2 separate regions of the Homo sapiens genome follow, and region 1 is linked to region 2. The links come from fine-mapping of genetic effects on gene expression. A gene starts in region 2. The other region holds a variant in brackets. All regions are shown on one strand. Distances are from middle to middle. Region 1 has its middle 29 kb from the start of LINC02171. Region 2 holds the start of HTT (huntingtin).

The links. PIP is the estimated chance that this variant, and not a neighbour inherited with it, causes the effect.
Region 1: its variant is fine-mapped to the expression of HTT in pituitary (GTEx, PIP 0.96).

What each region holds. Positions count from the first base shown.
Region 1 is chr4:3,701,451-3,712,996 of GRCh38, reverse strand. No RefSeq gene overlaps it. Among named protein-coding and RNA genes, the nearest start is that of LINC02171, 29 kb to the right of the region's middle. RefSeq lists enhancers at 8,310-9,216, 9,217-10,124. The variant G/A (reference allele first, on the strand shown) is at 4,826.
Region 2 is chr4:3,069,213-3,080,758 of GRCh38, reverse strand. It overlaps HTT (huntingtin), which reads right to left and starts at 6,078. Exons shown (of 67, transcript NM_001388492.1): 1 at 5,671-6,078. The coding sequence starts at 5,933. It also overlaps HTT-AS and the pseudogene RNU7-33P. RefSeq lists enhancers at 946-1,085, 2,763-2,902, 5,183-5,232, 5,243-5,472 and silencers at 5,633-5,702, 5,813-6,252, 6,403-7,022.

The DNA of each region.
Region 1 (11,546 bases), 630 kb before region 2:
CGGGGCAGAGGGGGAGGAGTGGGCGGCTGGACAGGATGATGGGAGCAAGGTGAGGGTCACAGGGCCCACAACTGTGAGAGGTCCCGGCTGATGTGCCAGTCAGCATTCTCCACTGAGAAACAGCTGATGGGAGAGAGGTCCATGTTGAGACATGTATTTTAGGGAATCAGCCCACGCAGTTGTGGGGGCTGGCAAGATCCCCCTGCGGATCAGGCTGCAGACCCAGGCAGGGCTTCTCCACCACAGTCTCCAGGCAGAATTCCTGCTTCCTCCACGTAGGCTCAGAGTTTGCTCCGAGGGCCCCAGTGGATTGGATGAGGCTGCCGCAGGCTATGCGGGGCCATCTCCTTTCCTTAAAGTCAGCTGACTGCCAATGTGCGTCACATCGCAAAACACTGGCACAGCAACCTCTAGACATGTGTTGGGATCATGGGGGACCACGGCCTGGCCAGGTTGGCACATACAACCGAGCAGCATGGTTGGGAAGGGACCACAGCAGGCTTGGAATTAGGGGCTCCAAATTCCAGCACCAGCTACCAAGGTTTCTGCAACTTGGAGATTGTTGCGCTAGGTGTGGCCTCAGTTTCCCCATCAGTAAAGGGGGGATCCTGTCCCTCAGTATATTCCATCCTCCCTGTGCTATAGAGAGCAGAGGAGAGAAGACCTAGTCCCTGCCCTGAGTCGAGGGGGGCCTGCTGGATTTTGATGTCTGTGTAGGAGTTTGCTAGGCACCCCAGGGCAAGGATGTGCCCCAGGTGGCCGGGTCATGGGGAGAAGCAGAGGGTGTTGGGGAGGTGGAGGCAGGGTGGGCTGGCTCTGTCCTTCTCCCTGCCACAGGCTCTGGTTTGGGGTGAGGAGGAAGAAGTTTGTTGTCCACAAATATGACCCCGTCATTTCCCAGCTCAGGGACTGCCTATACAGACAACATCCGAAGACCCCAGTATGATTTCTGGGCTGCGTTGGTTAGGGGAGCGCACTGGGCTGAGGCCAGCTGGGACGAGGACCCACAGGGTAGGGACGGGGTAGACAGGGCCAGCCCTGGACAGCCCCGCCCCTGGTGGCCCCAGGATGACCACAGTTGGATGCTTGAGTTCTGGGGTGTCCCCTAAAGCAAAAGCCTCGGTGTTGCCGTCATAGCTCAAAGCAGGTTTGGGGCAACTTTGTGATACTCCTCATGGTACGCCCACCTCACTTCCACCACTGGTGACGTCGAGAGCCAGGTAACGACGCCCCATCCAAGGGCCGTGAGAGGGAGTGGTCTGAAAGCACCAACACCGGGGGCTGGCACAAGGTCTCACTCATTCATTCCTGCATTCATTCATTGAACAAATAGGTCAGAACTCCTGCTGTGGGCCTGGCCCTGCCTGGACTCTGGGGAAACCGGAACAAACAGCCAGCCTCACACATCCCTGCCCGCCGTGTAGCAGACCTTGGGCGGAGGAGCAGGCAGCCTCTGAATAGTCAATCCACGGCCAAGAAGGTCCACAGAGGGCGAAGACGGCCGCACTGGGGACGGGACGGGGCGTCTGTGCGGGTCTCCTTCTCCTCTGCCCGAGGGGTCTGCTCCCACCCTCTTTCTTACCGAGCAAAGCATGCCCAGACCTTGATAAGCTCAAGCCTGCTCCTGACCACGTGGAAGGGAGCAGCTCCACACGGGCCAGTCAAACTCTGCAGACAGCACAGGCTTTGCATGTGGGAGACAGAGCAGCCGGCTCCATCACCAAGTATGTTGCTGATGCTCATTTTCTCGGTTTTTTTTTGCCCAAAATGTCAAATTGCTCTGCTGCGTGCTCCTGATAGAGGCCTGACAGGGCCGTGGGAGAAGCACGGTGGAGGGTGGTGCTAGGAAGACAGGGAGCTCGACGAAGACCCTGGTGGGACCCCTAGGGGATGTGGATCTGGAAGCTTCCTGGCCACCCCAGGAGCTGCAGCTGAGGAGCTGGCAAGGGGGGTTGGGTATGCCATAAGTGACACAGAGCAGGAGCAAGAACAGGCCAGGCTGGCCTCGAGTGACCCTGGACACATGCCCCCTCCAAGCCAGGCCCCACACCTGCAAAATCAGGGTGGGTGGCCATCGCCACCAACACAGCGAACCCGCAGCAGGACCCCCTTCACTCCAGGGTCCCCACTGCCACTCTGTGTCTGAAGGCCCCCCGCAAGGAGGACCAGAACCTTCTGTGTGCCTCCCCGCACACACTGAGTTAGAATTCCACTGGAATGCGGAGCGTGGTCAGGCGTGACCTCCCTCCATGCCTCCTGACAGGAGGCACAGCCTTCTCCCACTCCCCCACCGCGGTGTGCTGGACTAGCAAATTCCAGAGCAGAGAGGCTGTGGCCATGGAAACCTGGCAGACCTCAGATTCCCCGGGACAGGGCAGGAGCAGGGCCGGGAAGGGCCTGGCAAGCCCACTGCGGGGGGTGGGTGGGCAGGATTGTCAGAGGATGGCCACTGTGGCAGAAGCCTCAGAAGATCAGACGCTTCCAGAGTCTGGACGAGCCGCCTTCCCGGCCGGTGCTTCCCGGCTCTCTGCCCCCTGGGTGAGTGTTCTAGGTGGGGCTCCTAGAAGCAGGGATGGGTCCAGTCTGATCCCTCTGGGTGTCCCAAGTGCTGGATACATGGTTACAGGGCAGCAATGTGGGGCCGCTCAGCTCTCTCCTCCAATTCTCTGGAGGAAAGCACCAAAGCAGGCTCAGAGAGGAGAAGCCACGCCCCCAAGGTCACACAGCTTGGACTCTGCGGAGCAGAGATCGTAGTCCTGGTCCTTCTGACTTCCAGGCAGCAGACAGCCCCGAGGCGTCCCAGAAATTAGCGCAAAGTTCTGCAACCGGGTTAGGAAATCATCACCCTGCAAACCCTGGAGCGGGGAACTTGGTTGAATGAAATTCAGGTCAGGAAGGCTGGAGGCCTCCGGGCCTCCTCCCCTGGATGAGCACGCTAGTGCTCCGGACGAGGCTGTGAGTCCGCAAGCCTTCGGTAGAGGATTCTGGCTGCTTCCTTGTGTCTGGGGCGTGAAATCCTGACCATGACCTTCAGGAAGCTCGTCCCCCTGCCAGGAGGGCTCCATTGGCCCTGGCCCAGGTCCTCGGTGGGTTTTCACAGTACCTGCAGCTCCCCTCACCTACTCCATGACAGCCAAAACAACCCCAAACAGAGACCGATTATTAATTTGAGCCCTTCTCACCTCCTGTTACCCCCAAAATGCATCCAGACCTGGGGAGGTTGTGGGAAGGGGCCTCCTTTTCACAGTCCTCCAGGTCCCTCTTAGCACAAAACAGCATTTTGGGGTGCGGCCTTGCTCCTAGACCGTGGTGTGGACAATCAGCCAAGAGTGCAGCACCCCTCCCTGAACAACCCCCATGACGGAGGTGGTCCCGAACACGTCGCTCCTGCTGAATCATCACCCCTAGCCCAGAGCCAGGCACTGCAGGCCTCAGCACTTCCTTGTTGAATAAATATCATGGAAGGAAGCCCTAAGAAGTCAGTGGCAACAGCTCGTATATGTCAGAGCAGGCGTCTCTAGGCTCCCTCCATTTCCGTCCTAGAATTCAATGGCTACCATAACCCCCCATCCCCAGTAGCTGATTCCAGCAGCGAAACCCTTGTAATCCATGTCCCAGTGGGAGTCCCATGCCACACATTCACAGAGGGCTCCCACGGCCAAAGTCTGGATATTAATTAGGATCCAAGAGTGTGACGTGATGAGCAGTTCTGAGGCCTGGATCTTTGCTTTCACCTTTGAATGTGTGAATCATGGAAGTCCGGGCAGCCTGGAGATGTGCTGGCATGCCTGGGACCTGAGCTGGTCTGAGGTGGAGCAGGTGGGTTTCTGATAAATCCTATATGCCTGAATGTGTGAGTGGATGGGTGAGGGGATGTACAGGTGGGTGGGTGGGTAGGTAGCCTGGGGAATGATTGTGCAAGGCTGGGGGAGTGGATTGTGGTTGAATAATTGGATGGATGGATGGATGGATGGATGGGAGGGCCCAACAAGGGGCTGAGAGGCCTGCAGCCCAGCCCGCTGCCACCAGCACTGGCTGAGGTCCTTGGAGGGTGCAGTCCCAGCAGGAGGGTTGGGCATGGCTCTCTGCCGGCTTGGTGTCCTTCTGGGGCACACAGGGATGCTGGAGGCTCCATCCTGGTTTTGAGACCCCAGGGTCAGAGGCTCCAGGTAGCACCTGCGACATCCTGCACTGAGTCTTGCAGAATGGGATGGGATGCAGGTGGTGAGGGGAAACTCTAGTGGGCCGAGTGCTCCAGAGCGAAGGCGGGCTGGGGTATCTGCAAGGGCTGGCCTGTTGGTCCCTCCCTGATGTGAAGCCCTGCGGACCTCCATCCCTTCAGTGCTGGTGGGTTCGTTCACCCCTTCTGCAGTAAATTCAGGGTGGACAGGGGAATATCACCTTCCCCTTTAAAGAAGAGGAACCAAGTCCCAGGAGGGCAGAAAGACTTCTGGGGGCCCTTCCACCCTGCAGAGGCCAGAGGCAGCTCCGGCCCCCTGGCCACCTCCCCGTTCTGTCTCCACGATGGTTTCAGGAGGAAGTGGGCGTCCGCGGAGGCAACCACATGGCCCTTGGCTTGGCTGTCCCCATCACCAGCCCCCAGTCCCCTAGGGCGGGGCCAGGCTCTATTTCGGGAGTGAGAATGGAGAGAGGCGGGGGAACCACAGGCTCCCCAAGGGACTGCTGCCTCACAGGAGTCATCCAAAAAATTCCTGCCATGCAGCCCAGAGCAGATGGAGCCAGTGTGTAGCCAGCAGAGCCCCCAGCGCAGTGGCTGGAGGAGGGAGGGTGCGTGGGCGTGGGGCGGAGAGAGCCTGTACTGGGA[G/A]CCAGAGGCCTGGGTACAAAGCCTACAGCTTCAGTGTGCTCTGAGAGAGTAGGCAGAAGTACCTCCCGTAGGCCTCGCTCTTAGCTCCTAAATTGGCTCACGCTGGCCACAGCTCACACTTGAGGCCCCACACCAGGCACTCATCTGCCAGCCACCCCTGCCTGCAGGAACTACCATCGGCCAGGACCTAAGTTGGATGGATCTAATCACCCCATCTCCAGACACGCTGTACTCGCAGCCTCAGCTCTCTGCCCTCTGCTATTCTGCCCGGTATGACCAGAACCACCCTGGACACAACCCTCCGCCACTGGCACATTCTGCTCCCAGACACTCCAGCCTCCTCCAGAACCCCCTCCATGGATATTCCAGATGTGGCGGTCCTGCAGCCTTGGACTCCCTCGGCCCAACACACTGATGAGTGAGTAAGAGTGTAGCTGAGCTTCCAGGTCCTGCAGCCTCCGGGGAATGTCCAGGGTGTGGATAGACACTGGGCCTGAAGCTCCAGGCTGTGGTCAGCGCTGGGATGGAAGGAGGCAGGTGCACAGGGAGCAGAGGCCGGGGACACAGCTGACTGACCCTCTAAGCATGGACAGAGGAGGAGGTGCTGGAAAACAGACGGAGAAGGAAGGGAGGGAGTGGCCAGGAAGCGCTCTGCAGCAGCGACTCAGCGTCCTGCATCTTCATGGCATCCAAGGCCCCATGCCCAGAGGAGTGGCGGCAGAGGAAGCTGGGTATGGCTTGTGGGGTGCAGTCCCCCCATCACTATCTGGGGCCATTTGTGCCAAAACCAATGCACTGCCACAGCCCCTGAGTCCAGCACATCCTCGCACCCTGCGTCCCTGGACTGTGGTCCACCCTAGCCAGCAGCACCCAGAGCTCTCCTAACCAGGCAGGAGCTCCATGTGACAGATGAGGAAACTGAGGCCAGGGCAGGTGGCGCCGACCTCACTCCAGAATAGGCACGGACAGTGGGACCCAGAATGCCCACGGGCACCATGTTGGGAGCTGGATGGGCACTGAGGGTGAGGCTGGACCCCTTTCTGAAGGAGGGACGTGGTGTCTGCTCCTGTACCCCATGGTGGGTGCTCACCATCTCCCCAGCCCACAGTTTACTTGGACAGCCCCACAGTGACCCACTTTCTCCCCGAAATGGGCTGGATCTGCCTCTAGGTGTTTTCTGTCTCGGCCCAGGCTTTCCTAACACCGGCTGGTGCCATCCAAGCCTCCTGCAGGGTCAGCAGATTTGCAAACCACAGGTTTCTCCAATTTCTTTGGAGAAAAAAAAAAGGAAAAAAGAAAGAAGGAAATAATTTTCCAAAGTATTATGTTTCTTCCCAATAAATCAAGGCCACCAGGCCTGGCAATGGCCCCAGACTTGTCGGGCAGCAGAGCTTGGTGACACCCTGGGATGGGCTGGGAGCAACAGAGCTTGGTCACACCCCGAGATGGGCTGGGGAGGTTTGGGTGTCCAGCATGGGGAGTGGCTCCTACCTGGAGCCACTGCCAGGACGGGAGCATCTCCAGAAGCCACCAGGAGGGGATCTGGCCCAGTGAGGTGGGCAGGGAAACTCCTGTCTACCCCCGCACGGATGGCAGGGCCCCTGTGTTCACAGGGTAGGGAGGCATCACTGCTTTCCAGGTGTGAAGCGGGGGTCTGGAGGCCTCTCTAAACCAGCTCAGTGGCCACCGTCAAAGTTCCTTCCCTTTGACAAAAGTTTCCGGAGGCTGTTAGGGGACCACCCCCAGCAGTCCTGCCCCACCCTGACCCCTGGAAGGCCTGGGTCCTCCACCACCAGTGTCAGGGACGGGCAATCAGGGCTCACAGCTTTTCGGGAAGGGAAAGATGCGTGAGGAACATGGTGGCCATGAGGCCCCTGGGTTTGGGGCAGGGCTATGAGGCACCCAGCCCAGCACGGGGCCCACCTGTGCTGAGGAACTGACAGAAGGTCGCTGGCCGTCCTTCAGGGACACGGTCACATGGTGGCTTTAACAAGATGTGTCCACATCCTGATCCCTGAGCTGGTGAATGTGCCCTCACATGGCCGAGGTTGTGAGGAGGCTCAAATCTCATGCTGGACGCTTGGAACCGCTTGCTGCCCTAGGAACTGCTCTAGTTCACAGCAGCCCACCAGACAGAGGGAAGCTGCCGCACCTGGGGCCTCTGTCCTAGTGGAGAGGGCAGGTAGAGACAAGAGGGACAAGTGGTGAAAAGAGGGCCATTGTGTAGACGCTTCTCTGTGCCACGGAGGAAAATGAAACAGGAAGGGGCTGAGAGGTGTAGGGTGGGGGCTGTGGCTTACAAAAGGTGCTCAAAAGAGGTCACATTAGATGGGGATGCAGGAAATGGGGTCAGCAGCACATTTCTGGAGGCTGCCTTCCCAGCAGGCAGGCAGCAAGAGCGAGGACGTGGCGCGTCAGATGGGAGCTGCTTCCGGGCCCCACCTCCAATCCAGGCCTCGCGGGGGCGAGACTGGAAGGACCCAAGCACTGTCCCAGCCATCCCATTGTCAGCCACACAGCCTGAGGCTTGGTCTGGAGCCCGCTGGCAGCCCATGGGCCAAGACCGGCAGGAGGGCCCCCTCAGAGGCCGTTCCAATAACCCAGTGGAAAGGTGGCAGGCTGGGAGTCAGCGAGCGATTGACTTAGGGTGGAGGACACATCTCTGGATAAGGGATGGTCAAGGAATGCCAGGAGGACTGTCCTGTGGACATCACAGTCACCGACGCTGGGGCTGCAGCCTGCCTGCCGCTAAACACCAGGACAGCCCTGGAGAGTTGGTTGGACATTTATAGCAGAGGGAGCGTGTGTTTCATCCCCTAGCCTGCACCTCCCAACCTGGGGCTTTAGGTTGGAGAAAGGGGGCTTCCCCACCAAGTAAGCCATGTGACTGGACGTCTCTGCACCTGAGGCAGAGATCATAACCCCAGGGCAGTTTGACCCATTTAGGGGAGAACAGTTTCCCTCCCTCACCTCAAAAGGCTCCCACTCCACCCACGCAAAATAGCAATTAAGAGTCGAGCCAGGAAAAAGAGAAATAATTAATATTTTCTCCAAAGCAGAGTTCCTTGTTTAAGAGCTAAATAACACAGAGACAGCTTAACCGCTACCCAGCACAATCAATTCTCTCTGGTTCTAACCTGCTCATGTGTGTTTCTTTAATCAGAGCTATTAAGAGACATTTCTGAGAGCTTCAATGTGGGGTTGTGCTGGGTTTTTGATTTGCCAGAAATGATGATCGGGATGATTATACGCCCACACGAGAGGCGCCTCAGCAGAGGGTCATCCTGGCTTCACAGTCCACAGAGCTGGAGGCAGCGCCGGCCGTGGGCACTGACTGGTCCAGTCCTCCCAGCAAGTTCCTTCCTTTCTCTGTGCCTCATCTGTGAAATGCAGATTCCACTAACAATCTCTAAGTGGTTATGGGAAGTAAGTGGCTTTTGACATGCAGAGGTGATAGAAATAGCGATCTTTATCGCTATCTGTTCGTAACAAGCACTGGGTCTAAGCACCTTAGATTTACTCGTTAGCTGAAGCCCTGCAAAACCCCCACCGCTAGATTTCACCATGATTCCCACTTTACAGATGGGAAAACCAAAGCACAAGGTGTAACTCACTTGCTGTCCAGCAGAGTAGCAGGTGGGGACACTGGGGGCTCAGAGGGTCATTGGTTGAGTGTGTGGTGCTCGGGGGAGTCCCAGGGTGGACCTTGGGGAAGAGAGTCCACGTGGACGTCCCCAGGGAAGAGGTTGAGGGGAGGCCCTGGAATTGCAGGGAAGGGAGGTGGAAAGAGTGCCAGTCACATGAGGCTGGTGTGCTTGTGGTGGGGGCGCCCGGAGGAGGCAGACACGGGGCGTGGGGTCCCAGCCAGCTGTCCTGGGAAGCCCAGACACCCTCAGGAGCCTGTGTGTAAGGGGCCACCCTCCCCATTCTCCTGGGACTAGGGGAGTTTCCTGGGACATGGGATTTTCTGTGCTAAAACCAGGACGGTCCTGGGCGAGCCACGACAATAGGTCACTCTATGAGTTGCTCCCAAACCGCAGAGGGTGCGAGGAAGCCCAGGAAGCCGCCAGCCACGGCTCCCCACCCACCTGCTGCCTGGCCTCCCACCGCTCGGCATCTCGCCTTCTGGGAGGCTGTCTCCTTGCAGGAGTTTATTTTCACCCACCGATGGGATAATTACAGGGAAGAGGGGAAAAAAATGAAGTTGACAGAATCACAGATTAGAGAGAAATGCAGCCCACTTCCTCTGAGTTCCTCGGTGCATTTAAAGAAACCTGAGATCATCAGTGCCTTTGTCTCTGCACACCGCGCCCACCGGTAATAGCTCTGGCAGCGGCTCCTGTCCTTAGCTGGTCCCAGGGAGGCAGGAGAGTCCTGGGAGATTCCAAAGGATGGGGCCCAGCCCCGCGGCCCGTCTTCCCGTGGGGCTGGCATGTCGGCCCTCCTCTCCAGGTCTCAGGTGGCAGTTTGATCCTTGGTGGGGACGTGCCTGGCACTGACAGAACCCAGCCAGGTCCCAACATCCCTTACAGTGATGGGAGCTCTCCCTGAAGTCCCCACCCTGGGCCTCGCCCCCATTAGCTACAGAAAGCCCCCCACACTGACAGGCAGAACTCCCAACTTCCCCTCCCCACCCTCTCTTCTTCCCATGATGCCAGATGGGGCCTCTGGAGGCCGAAGGGGTCCAGAGCCCTGGGCTGACTGTTCCAGAAGGCGGCTGCCCCCACCCTGCCCCCATCTCTGCTGCTACCGTGCCATTCTGTGCTTCTCTCAGGGACAAGCTGCAAATGGCCTTGGGATGGGGACAGGTTCCGAGGTCAGCCACCCTCCTCCAGAGCCACCCGCACCCTCACTGCTGTCCTGCCCCTCACCCTTCCCCCCCCTCTTAATTAATGGACTTCAGTGTTTAGAGCAGTTTTAGGTCACAGGGAAACTGGGCCTGAAGCACAGCACGCAGCTCCGCACACCTCCCGCCCCACAGGCTCCGCGAGTGCCTCGTGCACTGGTGCGGTGGGGGCGTCTGCCGCACTGAGGGGCCATATGGACGCGTCGCCATTAGCTGAAGCCCACGGTCGGCACGAGGGCTCCCCGTCTGTGTGGCACCTTCTACGGTCGTGACAAATGTCCAGCCCCCACCGTGACGGCATCACGTGCTCCTCCTGTCCACCCCTCCTCCCTCTCCTTGGAGCCCCCCTTGCCAAGCACGGGGGAGGGGGGCTGGATTCAGAACTCAGGGACTCCAAGGAAAGGAGCAGACCTGAGAGCTAACGTGGGGTGGGGCCTCTCTGGGTGGGCCAGGCCTGCCCCGCAGGGACAGCTGGGCCCCCCGATCTTGGCCAGCACCGAGGGCTGCTCCCCTGACCTGGGGCAGGCCCTGCACTGAAGCCCCTGTGGAGGCCTCAGCTCTGCACTCCCCACCCCTTCCCCTGCAGCCCCTGCCCCTGGAGTCAGCACTGAGCTCCCCCCAGGAGGCTGGACCAAGGATGCTGCCGGCCTTAGCGGAAGGAGGGTCACCCCACGGGGAGAGATAGGAGCAGAGGCAGATGCAGGAGCGGGGGAAAGGAAGAGTGTTGGGCACCAAAATGGGGGGTGCCTGGGAGGGACCCGGGCATCATAACGGGCGCCCTCCCGTCGTATGGGCAACCTCTTATTTTTTGGATGGGGAAACTGAGGCCCAGCTTGGGAGAGGTTCACCCAGAGTGACACAGTCAGTCCGGGCAGTGGGAGGGGGGTCAGTCCGGGCAGTGGGAGGAGGGTCAGTCTGGGCAGTGGGAGGGGGGTCAGTCCGGGCAGTGGGAGGGGGGTCACACAGCAGAAGCATCTCCTGCAGCCCAAACACCAAGCACCCCAGAGCCCCTGAGACCTGGGGGCCACGGGATCGCGGCCGAGGGAGACTGAGGCCAGCCTGGAGGTCCTCTCCTGCCCTCGGGAGATGTGTGGCTGGGCAGGCGGCTCTCCTTCTCCAGGCCTGTTCTGTCATCTGCAAGTGGGCCTCCTAATTGTGCAAATACCAGCAGGCGGTCTGAGTTGAAGGGAGCTGGGAGTGCCCCACAGGTGCTGATCTGTGTTACGTGTTACCTCCCTTCCCCCAGGGAACCCACCAAGAACTCCGGCAGGCGCAAAGGCAGCGGTGCAGGAGGAACCAGGGTTGTGAGGCTGCTAACGCCAGAGCTCGCCTGTTTCTGTAGCAACCTGGAGCTGCGACTCGCTTCTGGAGGGGACGGTGGGGCTCCAGGATGACCTGGGATGGGGGGCGCACTAAGGCGAAAAGAGGGCCAGGACCCAGCCTCCCCCACACAGCCCCTTGCAGCGGAACCCTGATCCTCCCATTCCTGAAGAGACCCCATGATCAAAGCAGCTGCTGCTGCCTGGAGATGGAGCCTCCCGGGCCCTCCGTGGGAGGGGCTGGGGCAGGAGGCTCACAGAGGGCGGGAAGGGGTGACCCCAGCAACAGCAGGGATGGCTCTTGTTTCCCAGGGGCTCACCCCGCCCGCCTGGCTTCCTCTTCTCAGGCCCCCTGGAGGACAGCACCAGCATCCTCCAGCCTTGTTTTCTAAGGAGGATGTGAGCTGGATGGGGAGCCAGGTGACAGCTTCCTGGGCCCAGCCGGGTGAGACAGCCAGGACCCTGCCCTCTGTGGCTGCCAAGGCCCAGGGCACCAGCTGAGAGGGAGCAGGGCAGAGCTGGCAACTCCTGAGCCCCCGCGGCCCACCCCCAGTGG
Region 2 (11,546 bases):
AACTCAAAATGGATCAGACTTAAATGTAAAACTCTAAAATTCTTAGAAGAAAACATAGGAGTAAACCTTTTTGACTTTGGATTAGACAATGATTTCTTAGATATGACACTTGAAGCACAGCAACCAAAGACAAAATAGATAAACTCGACTTCATCAAAATTAAAAACTTTTACACTTCAAAAGACACTATCAAGAAAGTAAAAAGACAATCCAAAGGAAGGGAGAGTTTTTACAAATCATCTATCTGATAAGAATCCAGTATCCAGAATATATAAAGAACTATTACAATTCAACAATAAAAATACAAAGGGAAAAAATGAGAACAAGGGTTTGCAAGGTAAGTATAAGAAAGAGCCTGGGTTCTGACCGGGTGCAGTGGCCCAAACCTGTAATCCCAGCACTTTGGCAGGCTGAGGCGAGTGGATCACCTGAGGTCAGAAGTTCGAGACCAGCCTGGCCAACATGGTGAAACCCCATCTCTACTAAAAACACAAAAATTAGCTGGGCATGGTGGTATACGCCTGTAATCCCAGTTACTTGGGAGGCTGAGGCAGAAGAATCACTTGAACCCAGGAGGTAGAGGTTTTAGTGAGCTGAGATCACATCATTGCACTCCAGCCCGGGTGACAAGAGCGAAACTCCGTTTCAAAAAAAAAAAAAAGAAAGAGCCTGGGTTCCTTAACTTATTGTTGAATTTCCCCAGACTTATTTTTGTCTTCTGATAAGCTCTTGCTTGTTACCAGTTTAAGCTATTGCAGCAGGATTTTCTGTTACTTGCAGCTGAATACAAACCTGATAACGCAAGCTACTGCTAAATTGTTATACTTAGCAGAGTTCAACAAGTGCAGTTGGTTCCGCATTCAAAATCCAGTCAGTCATTCCTCACACTGCCCACAGCCGACAGCCGGTACCCTGACAGAACCCACCATGCTTATCTGAGCACTGCAGTGGCTTCCTAACTGGTTTCTGCTTTTGCCGGTGTTCCCCTTCACTCTGTTGTCAGCCAGAGTTCACTTAAGATTGAAATTCAGATCATGCTACTCCTCTGCTCTAATCCTCCAGTGACATCCCATCTCACTCACATAAATGCCAATATCTTTATTCCATCTACAAGGCAAGTAGTATTGGTCTGATATGGCACTCCCTTGACCTCTTGGACCTTACTTCTTACTACAAATGTCCCCCTCACTCAATTCACCCAACTAAAATGACATCCTTGCTATTCCTGAAACAGGAAGATTTTGGACCTGTTCCCCCCATCTGGAATACCACTACTTCATACACCCTTACACTAGACTCTTAACTCGCTTGAGGTCTTTACTCAAAAGCCATCATCTGGCCAGGTGTGATGGCTCACACCTATAGTCCCAACACATTGTGAGGTTGAGGTGGGAGGATCACTTGAGCCCAGGAGTTCAAGGCTGAAGTGAGCTACGATAGTGATACTGCATTCCAGCCTGGGTTAAAGAGCAAGACCTTGCCCCCCAACCCCAAAAAAAAAAAAAAAAAAAGCTGTCTTCTCAGTGGACCTTCCCTGAACACCGTATTTAAAATATCAACACTGGCCAGGTATGGTGGCTCATGCCTGTAATCCTAGCACTTTGGGAGGCCAAGGCAGGCAGATCACATGAGGCCGGGAGTTCGAGACCAGCCTGCTCATCATGGCAAAACCCCATCTCTACTAAAAATACAAAAATTACCCAGGCGTGGCCGGGCACAGTGGCTCATGCCTGTAATCCCAGCACTTTGGGAGGCCGAGGTGGGCGGATCACAAGGTCGGCGGATGACGAGGTCAGGAGATCAAGATCATCCTGGCTAACACGGTGAAACCCCGTCTCTATTAAAAATACAAAAAAATTAGCTGGACGTGGTGGCAGGCGCCTGTAGTCCCAGCTACTTGGGAGACTGAGGCAGGAGAATGGCGTGAACTCGGGAAGCGGAGCTTGCAGTGAGCTGAGATCGCGCCACTGCACTCCAGCCTGGGCGACAGAGCAAGACTCCGTCTCGGGGGAAAAAAAAAAAATTACCCAGGCATGGCAGTGCATGTCTATAATCCCAGCTAAACAGGAGGCTGAGGCATGAGAATCACTTGAACCCAAGAGGCAGAGGTTGCAGTGAGCCAAGATCACACTAGTGCACTCCAGCCTGGCTGATAGAGCAAGAACTGTCTCAAAAAAAACAAAACAAAACAAAATAAAATAAAAATGTCAACACTTAGTGCTACAGCTCTTTTGGAATTTGTCTAGCAGGCTTTCTGGGTTTTGCTGGAAAGCCCTTAACAATTTTTTTAAAAATAAAAATAAGTTAACACTCGATTAACCCTGACATTTCCCTATCCCCTTCCCTGCTTTGAAGTTCCTCCACGTATTAACGTACTGTATATTTTACTTATCTATCTTGCTTACTGTCTATGTCCTTCATTAGAATGAAAGCTTCACGAGGGCAGAGCTTTGTCTGCTCACTGCTGAGCCCTGCACCTATAACAGTGCCAGGCACATAGTACATGTTTAGTAAATATTTACTGATGAATGAATAAAGTCAGGGAAACACCAGATAGGAATCTGAAGGAGAATAAGAAACTGCCAGAAGCAAGTATTAATTGCCTCCTAATTACTGTGAGGACCCTCCCAAGCATGCTAGATTTGCTGAGCCTGCAGCCAGCCCCATAAGGAACTCCTGCATCCTGTATGCTGAGCAGAGCACAAACACTCATAAACTGAGGCCCATGCATGGCGTGACACCACAGTTCCACACCAAAGAGCAAGAGCCATAAAAACAGAACAGATACTTTCTAAATTGCTTTCATCAATCTTACTTTGAGAAGAGGATTTTTTGGCTGAAGCACGTGAACAGAACTGCCAAAATCCAAACTTTGTGAGCAGTGTTTGTTACTCAAAATTAGTGAATACCTCCTTTCTCAACAGCAAAATACAGAGAAATATGACAAATATGCATTTTATTTAAAATAACTATAAAACTATAAATAAACCTAATGCAGTTGATTTCAGAGCATGCTAAGAACCTTTAAAAGTTATTATTCTAGCCAGGCATGGTGGCTCACACCTGTAATCCCAGCACTTTGGGAGGCCGAGGTGGACAGATCACAAGGTCAGGAGTTCAAGACCAGCCTGGCCAACATGGTGAAACCCCATCTCTACTAAAAATACAAAAATTAGCTGGACATGGTGGTGGGCGCCTGTAATCCCAGCTACTCAGAAGGCTGAGGCAGGAGAAGCATTTGAACCTGGGAGGCAGAGACTGCAGTGAGCCGAGATTGTATCACTGCACTCCAGCCTGGGTGACAATGTGAGACTACATCTCAAAAAATATATAGATATATATTATTCTAAACTACTTTTGTTTTTAGAGCATTTTAAATCTATCTTACAATATGAACAGGTTATATCTGGCAGGATACATGAGGAACTGAAATAGTGCTTGTTCTTGGGGACAAAGTTAGGTACTCAGAGGAAAGGGGTGGAAGGAAGATATTTTAATTATTGCCCTTTTGTAATTACAGAATTTGTATCATGTCAATGTATTACTTATGCAAAAATAATACATTAAAAAAAATTTTTTTTGAGATAGAGTCTCGCTCTGTCACCCAGGCTGGAGTGCAGTGGCGTGATCTCAACTCACTGCAGACTCTGCCTCCCGGGTTCAAGCGATTTTCCTGCCTCAGCCTCCCAGGTAGCTTGGATTACAGGCACGTGCCACCATGACCAGCTAATTTTTGTATTTTTAGTAGAGACAGGGTTTCACCATGTTAGCCAGGCTGGTCTCAAACTCCTGACCTCAGGTGATTCGTCCACCTAGGCCTCCCAAAGTGCTCGGATTAAAGGTGTAAGCCACCTTGCCAGTCCTGATTAAATTTTTTAAATAAGGTAATCATATATTACCTTAAAGTAATGAAACAAAATCTATCTCCTTTGTCAAGGCAGCAAAGGAAATTTCTTGATACCCATATTTTGAAGATAAGCAAATGCAGGTTCTGTCAAATCAGCATAAGAAAGAGAAGGCATATTTTTAGAATGATCAAGTGTCTGAAGCAGCCCAGCAGAAAGGTCTTCCTTCCCATCAGGAGCCCTGTTTAGTGTTTACACAAGATACATGCAATGTGTGAACTTTTATGACACCTACCTCCTAGAAAAGCACTACAGTAAATTTCTGGATGAGAAATTACTTACTGAAGAGATAAGCCAAATTGTTTTAAAATTTCTCCAAATATCCAAAAAGTTTTTCCATCCTTTAGAATAATTTATTCCTAAATTTTATTCCAACAAATAAGCTAACACTGCTCTCCGAATCATTTTCTAATTAAACTTTGAAGACGAGACAAGGATCATAACAGAAACAAAGAACAAGAAATATTACTAAAAATTAATCAGTCTTAACAGAGATATTCTTACCAAATGCCATCTGGGACACATCCAGATCGGAAATAGAATACTGAGAGGTAAGAGAAAGGCCTGAACTGCACCAGAGTACTTCCTAACTCCTACTGTACACTCGACACACAGACTTCCAGGGAAAGTCCTGGGGTTCCGCTAGATGTTTTAATGGTCTCTCTTTTCCTGTTTCAAAAATTCTCCCCAAGAACAAGCAACAGAAACCCCTAGCTTCCAAAAAGTAACAAGCTGTCAGCAATGAAGCAAACAGAAACCCTTTCACTGGCACATCTGAGATGCCCACGGAGTCTGCGGACCCCCCGTATTCTGGCAAGCCTGACTGGAATACTGGTAAAATGTACACCTCATTCATCCCTCGGCAATTAACCTCCCCATCAGCAACGTGTTGGTTTTATTCCCAACACACATAGGCAAAAAACTTCAATCAACTCTTCCTAATATTTAAGATAATTTCATTAATCACCACGTAAGTTCACCACTTTACTTGGCAACCACAACTCATTCAAACGCCTGCAGACCAACTTAGGCTTAGATGAGCAGATCTCTTAGGTGGTGCTTAAAATCGTGTTACTACCACCGTGATCATGAACTAAATGAAATGTCCTGACAATGTAGGAAGAGCCTCAAATCTCAGGCTGTTTTAAGTGCCACTAGGAAAAGAAATCTCCCATTGGACGCGCCCTCACTCCCCGCCCCCCCCCTGCCCCGCCACTCCCGCCGAGGCGTCCTAAAAGCATTATGTCATCCACTGCCCCCACATCTCTCCAGCTCCAAACCCCGCCTCCTCTCGAAGTGTCCCGCGCCCCCAGCCCTCTTCCCTCTCAGACTAGAAGAGGGAAGTGGCACTGAGCAAATCTCGGCTCCTCCAAGTTCTCTTCACAACGCAGTTAAAAGAACCCCCGCCCTGGTTTCTCGCAAATAAAAAGAAACAAGTTCTCGCCCCAACTCTTCGCATCCTGCGAAGGGCGAGAGGGCTGAGGCCGTGACTCCCCTCGGTGAATTCAGGACAGGCCCCAACAAGGCTCTGCCTCCCCTCGCGAGAGGACAAGGGAAGACCCAAGTGAGGGAGCGGGGCTGAAGTGGGGGAAGGCCTCGCCCCAGGAGGGGGCGGGTGTCCCTCATGGGCTCTGGGTTGCTGGGTCACTCTGTCTCTGCGGGGCCGGGGGTTCGTGTCGCCGGCCCGCAGGCTGCAGGGTTACCGCCATCCCCGCCGTAGCCTGGGACCCGCCGGGACAGGGAGCTGCAGCGGGCCCAAACTCACGGTCGGTGCAGCGGCTCCTCAGCCACAGCCGGGCCGGGTGGCGGCGGGGGCGGCGGCGGGGGCGGCTGCGGCTGAGGCAGCAGCGGCTGTGCCTGCGGCGGCGGCTGAGGAAGCTGAGGAGGCGGCGGCGGCGGCGGCGGCGGTGGCGGCTGTTGCTGCTGCTGCTGCTGCTGCTGCTGCTGCTGCTGCTGCTGCTGCTGCTGCTGCTGCTGGAAGGACTTGAGGGACTCGAAGGCCTTCATCAGCTTTTCCAGGGTCGCCATGGCGGTCTCCCGCCCGGCACGGCAGTCCCCGGAGGCCTCGGGCCGACTCGCGGCGCCGCTCAGCACCGGGGCAATGAATGGGGCTCTGGGCCGCAGGTAAAAGCAGAACCTGAGCGGCCGTCCATCTTGGACCCGTCCCGGCAGCCCCCACGGCGCCTTGCGTCCCAGACGCTGCGCCGGCGGAGGCGGGGCCGCGCCGGCGGAGGCGGGGCCACGCCGGCCAGCATGATTGACAGCCCTAGCCTGCGGACTCTGCCAATGGCTGGCCAGGGAACCAGCCCGCCCCTGCCCCCGCAGGTTCTGCCTCACACAGCAAGGCCGCTGACAGCGCAGCGCCCCACCCGGGCGAAGGCGCGGGGCTCAACGGAGAGGGGACGGGGCGTGGTGAGACTGTAATGGGGTGAGGCGAAGCTGTGTGTGAAGTGTCGCGGCGAGGCGGGACGAGGAAGGGACGGGGCGGGACTGCATGGTAAGGGAGGCGTGGCGATGCGGGGGGCGTGGCGATGCGGGGGGCGTGGTGAGGTAGGGGCGTGGCGAGGCCGGGGCGGGGCACAGCAGGGAGGCCGCCTGAGGGGCGGGGCGAGACGGGGGCGGGGCGGGGCGATGCTGGGGACGGGGACATTAGGCAGGCCGGCTGAGGGGCGGGGCGGCTGAGGGGCGGAGCGGGATAGGGGAGGGGACTGGCCGGTGAGGGGTGGGGAGGCTGGGGGCGGGGCAGGAAGGTGAGAGGTGGGGCGAGGGAGGGGTGGGGCGCGGAGGGGCAGGGCCATGGAGGGGCTCGCCCATGAAGGACGGGGCCATGGACGGGGCGGGGCCGTGGAGGGGGCGCCGAGCGCGGGCGCAGGCCCATGCGGAAAGGATCCCCCGCCGACGCCTGGAGCGGGGCGACAGCCGGCCGTGGACTCTGAGCCGAGGTGGCCTTGGGGTTTGCCCTCCCGCCACACTGGCCCGTGGCCAGAGCCATACTCACCCGGACAGCCCTGCGGGGAGCCAGCTGCGGGGCTCTCTGCACGGGGAGAGGGTGGGCGAGCTCCTGCGCAGAGCGCAGAGAATGCGCGTGGTCGGCACGACCTGAGGACCCCAAGTGTGACCCCCACCCCACCCCCAGTGAGCTGGAGAGGCCCCTGCAGGGCGGTGTCCACAGGCCTGGCGCCCCCCATCGGTCCCAGCGCAGCGCCCCGGAAGGGAGGAGAGGGTCTGGGGCAGGCCTGGGTGGTCAGCGCCTGCTGCCCACAGAGGCACTGTGATTAGTGCAGCGAGAAGCAGCTATGGCCACAAGATGCCGCCCACAGGAATGAGTCCCGACCTGGGGGCGTTTCTTTATGGGAGTGCACCCCTGCTCTGACCTTCCGGCAGGACCCCCAAGGGGCGTCATTCAGCAGCAGCTCAGCAGAGGTCTGTGGGGCACCCCCTCACGCCTGGGACACAGGCCGTGGCGGGCAGGGTCCTGGTCTCCAGAGCCTCCTGCCTTTTGGGTGGTAGAGGGGCAAACGGAGAGGGCAGCTGTCCAGCCTGCCCAGCAGGGAGTAAGGTTGGCCTCAGAGACAACCGCCCAGCCGGGGGGTGATGCAGGCAGAGAGGAGCCCAGTAAAGCCTACTTTAGCCAGGCCACACCTGCAACCCAGAGTCCCCTGCTCTGTGGCCACAAACAGCACCTCCGCCTTGTCTCAGAGCCTGTCCTAAAGGGAAACCCAGCATTGTCCCCAGTGGGGTAGCAGTAGCCTCCCTTTTCTTGAGAAGGACAGCAGAGAAACAGCTGTTAGTTCCCAGTTCTTGGGAGGCTGATGTGGGAGGATCACCTGAACCCAGGAATTTGAGGCTGCAAGTGAGCTAGGATTGCACCACTGCACTCCAGCTTGGGTGATAGAGCGACACTGTCTCTAAAAAAATTAAGTTCCAGCGAGGTGCGGTGGCTCACGCCTGTAATCCCAGCACTTTGGGAGGCCAAGGCAGGCAGATCACCAGAGGTCAGGAGTTCGAGACCAGCCTGGCCAACATGGCGAAACCCTGTCTCTACTAAAAATACAAAAATTAGCCGGGTGTAGTGGTGCATGCCTGTAGTCCCAGCTATTCCGGAGGCTGAGGCAGAATTGCTTGAACCTGGGAGGTGGAGGTTGCAGTGAGCCAAGATCATGCCATTGCACTCCAGCCTGGGTGACAAGAGTGAGACTCTGTCTCAAAAATAAATAAATAAATAAAGTTCCCAGTTCTCTGCTGTTAATAAGGGCCTTTGTCCACTGTGTCAGGCCTCAAGGTTGTTAGTTACCTCAGTGGGCAGACTCATAAGATGGCCCCAGCACCCCTCACCTCCTGGTATTGACACCCTTGTATGACCCCTCCCCGTGAGCTTGGGCTGTACCTGGTGGCCTGCTTCTAACCAATGGGCAAAGGTGATGGAATGTCACCCCATGACTAGGTCGCAAAAGGGTATGACTTCAGTCTCCCTGGCCCTCTCTGTTGCCTTCTTGGCATGGATGCTCTGATGAAGTCAGCTGCCATGTTGGAGAGGCCCACATGGCGAGGACATAAAGGCGGCCTCTGGCCAACAGGCAGTGAGAACTGAGGTTCTCAGTCCAGCAGGCCATGAGGAACTGGATCCTGCCAACACCACGTGAGATTGGAAAGGGACCCTTCCCCGGCTGAGCTCTCAGGTGGGAGGCAGCTGGTATTTGACTGAACCCTGGCGAGAAGTGGAGCTGGTTAAGCTGGGTCCAAATTCCTGACCCACAGAACGTGTGACGATACATATGGCTCTACACGTAACTACATATAACTCTATGACTAGACATGTGTGCTGCCAAGCCACAGTGCTGGGGTGATTTGTTCCAGCAGCAGATGACTGTATTTGTTTACTTGGGCTGCCATAACAAAGTACCACAGACCGGGCAGCTTAAACAACAGAAATGTATCTTCTCATGGTCCTAGAGGCTAGAAGTCCGAGATGAAGGTGTTGGCAAGGTTGGTTTCCCCTGAGCCCTGTCCTTGACTTGCAGACAGCTGCCTTTCTTGGTGTCCTCACGTGGCCGTCCCTCTGAGCATGTCCGTGTCCTAATCTCTTCTTGTAAGACATCAGTCGGATTATGGCCCACCCTAATGATCTCATTTTAGCCTCCTTACCTCCTTAAAGAACCTGTCTCCAAATACAATCCCATTCTGAGGTTCTGGGGCTTAGGACATCAACCTGAATGAGGGACACAGTTCGTCCCATAACAATAAGTAATAGAGTTGCACCCTAGCAGCCGCTCTGACCTTCTTTAGAGACCTTTTTATCTAAGCAGTTTGCCTCTTAGCTAGTGTATGACAGTCCCTGTCCTTCCTTCAGCTAGCTATGGCCATATAACTAAGTAAGTGCTAGCCAGGGAGATGCAAGCAGAAGTAATGAGTAGTACTTCTAGAAAGGAATCACATAAAATGAAGGGAAAGACACACCTTTTTCCTGCTCCCTGGAATGGGATGTGTTGGCTGGGACTTGAGCAGCCATTTTGGATCATCTGCATAAAAGCCACATCCTGGGGTGATGGGAGCTGGAAGGAGGGGGCCCAGATGACTGTGTGCAGTTGTCATTCCAGCCTGGCCTGGAATTCTTTCATCTGTAAGGGAGAAATACACTTCCGTCTGAGCTGCTGTGACTCCAGGTCATTCTGTTATATGCTCCCAAACCAAATTATTCCAACCCATCCAGGGAGGCAATGGATCATCGGGACTTTACATGGCCACAACAAATCACAACTGCTTCAGCCATGGCTGAGAAAACATCATCTGCCTAGAATTGACTATCATCCTGACAGGAAATCTAATGTGAAAGACTTACAGAAATGGACTGTCAAGACACAGGTTTTTAAAGTTCACAGAAAAGTTTGGCATCATCTAAAAAGAGTAAAGATCAATACTGGGCAGTCTGGCATGGTGTCTCTGAGGCCTAAAAATGGGCACAGTCCCTGAACAGCAAAAACATTTCCCGTAATTTATCCTATGCAAACAGTCAGGCATGTGTGATCAATGATTTATTATAGCAACACTTAGGACAAAAGATGGAAAAAAGATAGATGCTGGGCAGAAGGAGCTGAGTTAAAGGAATCCCAACATAGCCACAGGCAGTCATTAGAATCCTGTTCCAGATGAGCACTTGTGACACAGGGAAAGGCTTACAACATGCTAGCCGACTACACACCATGTAGAGCCTGATAACGTCCCCCATTCTAAAGAAAAAACAGCGTACACATACACAGAAGAGAGATGAAGGCGCAGTGGCTCACACCTGTAATCCCAGCACTTTGGGAGGCCGAGGTGGGCTGATCACCTGAGGTCAGGAGTTCAAGTCCGCCTGACCAACAAGATGAAACCCTCTCTCAACTAAAAATACAAAAATTAGCCGGGCATGGTGGCAGGTGCCTGTAATCCCAGCTACTCAAGAGGCTGAGGCAGGAGAATCGCTTGAACCCAGGAGGCGGAGGTTGCAGTGAGCTGAGATCGAGCCACTGCACTCCAGCCTGGGTGACAGAGCAAGACTCTGTCTCAAAAAAAAAAAAAAGAGCGAGAGAGAAATAAGGTTCCTAGTCACCAAGTCATAGCAGTGACTCTCTCTGGGCAGGGGAATTGAGGGCGGTTTATATCTTAATCTTTGTGCTTTTCCATATTTTTCAAATTTTCAGCAATGAACATGAACTATTCAGGGGAAGATTGTTAAATGAAAGAATCTCACTGGGCGGGGAGCTAAGCATGACACCTGGCCACCTGCCTGTGCCTGTCCTGCCGAGAAGAGAGAAGAGGCCTTGAAAGCAGCCAGAGGGGGTGCACACCAGCCTGGGCAGGGGGCAGTAAGCGGGAGCAGCCCCGACCCGAGACCAGGTGGGATGCACGCGGGGTGGGGCTGGAAAAGAAGGAAACCCTGACGCAGACCCCAGGGGGAAATGAGGAGCAGTCGAGCAACTGGAGAGCAGAGGAGGCTCTTTGGTGGCCTCCAGCCCCACCCCTGAGAGGGCTGAGAGAGGAGCAGGTGTGAGGGCAAAACAGGCAGGAACCTTCCAGAGAAGAAAGCCAGGAGCTGGTAAAGAGCACGGGCCCAGCTGCAGACAGAAACCTTTCCCGTCTCATAGGATGGCTGAGGCGCAGGACAGCGGCGGGGGCGCGTCCTCCTTCATCTGTCCTGTTTCCTTAGGTTCTAGGTGCACCGCTGGTAAGGAGCTTCTTATGTGGGGTCTTTGACAACCCTCGTTTTTAAACTAGAGCATTTCCTTCATTAATATTAACTGTAATCGTTGATATACGTGAGGTCAGTCTTTCTGTATATCCTACCAGCTCTGTTACCTGGTTTTTGGTTAAGTCTGATTTTATTTTTGAACCTCTGTTAGTTTGAAAGTGATCACTGTTGGCCGGGCGCGATGGCTCACACCTGTAATCCCAGCACTTTGAGAGGCAGAGGTAGGCAGATCGCCTGAGGTCAGGAGTTCAAGACCAGCCTGGCCAACATGGTGAAACCCCATCTCTACTAAATATTTAAAAAAAAAAAAAAATTAGCCAGGTGTGGTGGCAGGTGCCTGTGATCCCACCTACTCTGGAGGCCTAGGTGGGAGGATGGCCTGAACCCAAGAGGAGGAGGTTGCAGTGAGCCAA